2 separate regions of the Homo sapiens genome follow, and region 2 is linked to region 1. Evidence: fine-mapped expression QTL. Tissue or cell type: whole blood. Region 1 holds a variant in brackets; the other region holds the start of a gene. All regions are shown on one strand. Distances are between the middles of the regions.

Evidence for each region. PIP is the estimated chance that this variant, and not a neighbour inherited with it, causes the effect.
Region 2: NPRL3 starts here. The variant in region 1 is fine-mapped to the expression of NPRL3 in whole blood (INTERVAL, PIP above 0.99).

What each region holds. Positions count from the first base shown.
Region 1 is chr16:96,924-99,679 of GRCh38, reverse strand. NPRL3 (NPR3 like, GATOR1 complex subunit) reads left to right here. Exons shown (of 14, transcript NM_001077350.3): 9 at 1,379-1,535. Among named protein-coding and RNA genes, the nearest start is that of MPG, 20 kb to the right of the region's middle. The variant C/T (reference allele first, on the strand shown) is at 1,326.
Region 2 is chr16:137,609-140,232 of GRCh38, reverse strand. NPRL3 (NPR3 like, GATOR1 complex subunit) reads left to right here and starts at 1,560. Exons shown (of 14, transcript NM_001077350.3): 1 at 1,560-1,591; 2 at 1,899-2,083. The coding sequence starts at 1,966. RefSeq lists an enhancer at 1,631-1,680 and a silencer at 1,901-2,130.

The DNA of each region.
Region 1 (2,756 bases):
AAATATACTTTCTTAATTTAATTGACTTTTTTTTTTTTTTTTTTGAGATGTAGTCTTGCTCGGGGCTCAAGTGCAGTGGCACAGTCTCCACTCAGTGAAGCCTCTGTCTCCCGGGTTCAAGCGATTCTCCTGCCTCAGCCCCCTGAGTAGCTGGGATTATGGGTGCACACCACTACACCTGGCTAATTTTTGTATTTTTAGTAGAGATGGGGTTTCACCATGTTGGCCAGGCTCGTCTTGAACTCCTGACCTCGTGATCCACCCGCCTCGGCCTGCCAAAGTGCTGGGTTACAGGTGTTAGCCACCATGCCCTGGCAATTTAATTGATTTTCTGCAAGGAAAGAACTGAGCCCAGTCTTCTGGCACCACCTGTTCCCAAGTCCCCCAATACCTTGAACATTTTTTAATTATAAAAATATATCTGGGCACATTGCTGAAAATTTGGAAATGACAGAAAGCAAAGCGCTGCCTAGTTCCACCCTCCCCAGTCCGTGCTCTTTGCTTTCAATCCTAGCTAAGCATATTTTAATGTACTTTGGTCCCTAGTCTGTGAGGAGGATTTTGCTTTTCCCATATTTGGGACAATTTCCTTAGGAAAGATTCATTCATGTCTTCAATCAACAGATGTTTGCTGGGCGTCTCTGAGGTGGGATACAGAGTCCAGTCTTCGAGCCTTCCCCACTTTTGTCGTGTTTTTTTCCGAGGGTGACATAATCCTTGCAGGTTTTGTTTTTGTTGTTTTTGAGACAGAGTCTCACTCTGTCGCCAGGCTGGAGTGCAATGGCGCAATCTCGGCTCACTGCAAGCTCCGCCTCCCAGGCTCAAGTGATTCTCCTGCCTCAGCCTGCCGAGTAGCTGGGACCCCAGGTGGGTGCAACCACACCCGGATAATTTTTTTATTTTTAGTAGAGATGGGGTTTCACCATGTTGGCCAGGCTGGCCTCGAACTCCTGACCTCACGTGACCTGCCTGCCTTGGCCTCCCAGAGTGCCGGGATTATAGGCATGAGCCAGTCCTTGGCAGATTTTGTGAAGGCCTCCAAACAGACCACTGCCCTTTTCTCAAATCCCGCTCTTGGCCCTTCTCTCCGCAGTTAAGGGCCAGGAGGCTCCAGCTGCCTGTTTGTGTCCCAGGTGCATACCTGATGCACACCCGGTGCAGGACCTCGTGCAGGACCTGGTGCATACCTGGTGCAGGGTTCCCTGCACTTCGTATGTTCCGTGTGTTTGAGTCCCAGGTGCATACCTGGTGCATACCCGGTGCATACCTGGTGCAGGACCTGGTGCATACCCGGTGCATACCTGGTGCAGGACCTGGTGCATACC[C/T]GGTGCAGGGTTCCTGCACTTCGTGTGTTCCGTGACAGGTGATTGTTTTGCAGCCCCTACCATGCCCTGCTGCTGCTCAGTGATGAGAAGTCCTTGCTGGGTGAGCTTCCTATTGACTGCTCCCCTGCCCTAGTGCGGGTGATCAAGACCACATCTGCTGTGAAGAACCTGCAGCAGCTAGCCCAAGATGCGGACCTGGCCTTGCTGCAGGTATAGCTCTGGAGGCCCAGATGGGTGGCATGTGGCGGTGCTGGGGCATCAGGAAAGGCAGGCCGCCTGCCACAGTACATCCACAGGGGCTGTGTCCAGCTGAGAGCCGCGGCACAGCCCACCATGGGGTGGGGCCAGTCCCTGGGATGGCTGGAGGTTTTGGCATCTGAGTCAGACCTGGGTTCAGGGCTGGCTTTGTGAGTGAGCCACGGGACTGACTTGTTCTTCTGTCTCAGAGAGGTAAGGCGAGTCTGTGAGAGAAAGGACTGGGGTGCTTGCAGTCCTGGAGGTTGAGGCACCAGAGCTAGGGGGTGGGCAGGGCAGCAGCGGGCAGGGCCATGGGGGTCTCACAGTGGTGCATGAACAACATACGGGAACTAAGGGCAGGAAGCTTGGATGCGGGGCCCTCCCATGTGCAGAACAGAGACCTAACCTGGTGGCCTTACGCCCCTGTGTGTGCACATGTGTTGGCCTGTGCACTCTGTACAAGATGCCACGTCCTTGCTGAGCCACATGCTTATGGGCCTGTCCATGCAGAGGGCTGCCCTTTCTGATTAGATGGAGGGCCCCTCAGCCTCGTCTGCGGATCTGGTTGGAGTGTGGGAGGAAAAGCGCAGGCAAGGCTGGGCACGGTGGCTCATGCCTGTCATCCTAGCCCAGGACTTTGAGACCAGCCTGAGCAACATGGCAAAACCCCGTCTCTACAAAAAATACAAAAAAAAAAAAAAAAAAAATAGCTGGGTGTGGTGGCGTGCACCTGTAGTCCCAGCTACTTGGGGGTATGAGGTGTGAGGATCAATTGAGCCTGGGAGGCAGAGGTTGCAGTTAGCTGAGATTGTGCCACTGTACTCCAGCCTGGGCGACTCTGTTTCCAAAAAAAAAAAAAGCACGGGGAGAAATCAGAAGCAGGGGCTGCTGATGGGGTGGCCAACAGGCCATGGGATCAGCTGTGGCTGCTAGTCATGTGGGCGTGGCCCAGAGCCACGGGACCATTGAAATACTGCCTGAGGGTGGGAGCAGGTGGTGCCTGTGGGTGGCGCCCTCGTCTGGTGGCGGTGTGCACAGCATGGCCACCAGGGGGCAGCAGAGGCTGCCGAGGAACACAGGCGTGAGGTGGGCCCGCCTGGGTCCCTCTGGCTGAGCTTCCATGCTCTTTTGGCCTGTGAAACAGGTCTCTGCTTAGCACGTTAGGGGAACTTGTCCAACAAGGCCTGACTCTCA
Region 2 (2,624 bases), 41 kb before region 1:
CCCAGGCTGGTCTGGAGTTCCTGGCCTCTCAGCGCTGGGGTCACAGGCGTAAGCCTCTACCAGTTGAGCTGAGCATCTTCTGGTGCTTATTGGCCATTTGCATAATGCACTGGAAAAATATTCATATCCTTTGTGCATTTTTCAATTGTCTTTTTATTGTTGAGTTGTAAGTTTCCTCCATTCTAGATACAATTCCCTTATCAGATATGTAACTTACAAATATTTTCTCCCGTTCTGTGGGTGGACTTTTAATTTTCTTGATGGTGTCCTTTAAAGCACCGAAGTTTTTGTTTTGTTTTGAGATGGAGTCTCGCTCTGTCGCCAGGCCAGAGTTCAGTGGCACGATCTCGGCTCACTGCAACCTCCGCCTCCCGGCTTCAAGCGATTCTCCTGCCTCAGCCTCCCGAGTAGCTGGGATTAGAAGCAGGCGCCGCCAAACCCAGCTAATTTTTGTATTTTTAGTAGAGAGACGGGGTTTTACCATGTTGGCCAGGATGGTCTAGATCTCCTGATCTCATGATCTGCCCACCTCGGCCTCCCAAAGTGCTGGGATTTCAGGCGTGAGCCACCGCGCCCGGCCGCAGTAAAGTTTTTAATCTGATGAAGTTTAATTTATTCTTCTGTAGTCGCTCCTGCCTTTAGTGTCACTGCCTCGCCCAAGGTCTCAAAGATCTCCTGTCGGCTTCCAAGTGTTTTTTTTTTTTTTTTTTTTTTTTGAGACGGAGTCTCGCTCTGTCGCCTAGGCTGTAGTGCAGTGGCGCAATCTCGGCTCACCGCAAGCTCCGCCTCCCGGGTTCAAGCGATTTTCCTGTCTCAGCCTCCCGAGTAGCTGGGATTACAGGCGCCCGCCACCACGCCCGGCTAATTTTTTTTTTTTTTTTTGTAGAGACGGGGTTTCACCATGTTGGCCAGGATGGTCTCGAACTCCTGACCTCGTGATTCACCCGCCTCGGCCTCCCAAAGTGCTGGGATTACAGGCGTGAGCCACCGCGCCCGGCCTTTTTTTTTTCTTTTTTCTTTCTTTCTTTCTTTTTTTTTTTTTTGATACGGGGTCTCGTCGCTCTGTCGCCCAGGGTGGAGTGCAATGGCGTGATCTTGGCTCAATGCAACCTCCGCCTCCCGGGTTCAAGCGATTCTCCTCTAGGATTACGGGCGCCTGCCACCACGCCCGGATAATTTCTTCTAATTTTTAGTAGAGATGGGGTTTCACTATGTTAGCTAGGATGGTCTCGATCTCCTGACCTCGTGATCCGCCCGCCTCGGCCTCCCAAAATGCTGGGATTACAGGCGTGAGCCACCGCGCCCCGCCCAAGTGTTATTTGTAAAACGAAGAAACCAACATCGAGAGGGACGCTGACTCGACCCCGCGCCTTTCCCATCCGCACCAGCAAGAGGGGCCCCTGTGCCCCAAACGCGAACCGTACGGCTCCAGACAGCACCGCGGAACTCGGTGGCTTCCAGAAGGCCCCGCGCCTGCGCATTCCGCTGCCTGCGCCTGCGCCTGCGCCTGCGCCGTTCTCCCGGCCGCCGCCTTAGCACCTCCTCCGGACGGTGTCGCCGAAGTCTCGCGAGCCCGGAGCGTGGCACGTGGGTTGGTAACTGTGGCGCTGCTCCGCGTCCACCACCACCCCTGTCCTCCTCAGGCCCCCTCCGCCTCCACCCCTGCCCTCCTCAGGCCCCCTCCGCCTCCACCCCTGCCCTACTCAGGCCCCCTCCGCCTCCACCCCTGCCCTCCTCAGGCCCCCTCCGCCTCCACCCCTGCCCTCCTCAGGCCCCCTCCGCCTCCACCCCTGCCCTCCTCAGGCCCCCTCCGCCTCCACCCCTGCCCTCCTCAGGCCCCCTGCGTCCCCGCCTCGTCCTCCTCAGGCCCCCTCCGCCTCCGGCTCCGTCCTCCTCAGGCCCCCTCCGCCTCCGGCTCCGTCCTCCTCTGGCCCCCTCCGCCCCCGGCCCCGGCCCCACGGCGGGATGCGGGACAACACCAGCCCCATCAGCGTGATTCTGGTGAGCTCGGGGAGCAGGGGCAATAAGCTGCTGTTCAGGTACCCCTTCCAGAGAAGCCAGGAGCACCCGGCGTCCCAGACAAGTAAGTGAGCGCTGGGCGGGGGCCTGGCGCTCGCGGGGGCCGCCTCATTCCGGGGTCGCCTCATTCCAGGGCCGCCTCGCGGAGCTTAGCTTTTGCTGGGCATTCGAGATCTGCTCGTTGTAGAGTATTTGAAAAGTAGAAAAAGGAAAAAAAAAATTAAAATCATGCATTGTTCACCACACCAAAGCAACTACTGCTGACATTTCATCAGTCTCCAGCCTTTAAAAAATAAAGTAAAATAAAATAAAATGAGTTTGGGATGTATTCATCATGAGAAAATACAAAATTACACGAACAAGGCCGGTGGCGGTAATCCCAGCACTTTGGGAGGCCGAGGCGGGTGGATCACCTGAGGTCAGGAGTTCGAGACCAGCCTGGCCAACATGGTTGAAACTCTGTCTCTACTGAAAAAATAAAAATAAAAAAAAACAAATTAGCCGAGCGTGGTGGTGCGTGCCCATAATCCTAGCTACTTGGGAGGCTGAGGCAGGAGAATTGCTTGAACCCGGGAGGCGGAGGTTTCAGTGAACCGAGATCGCGC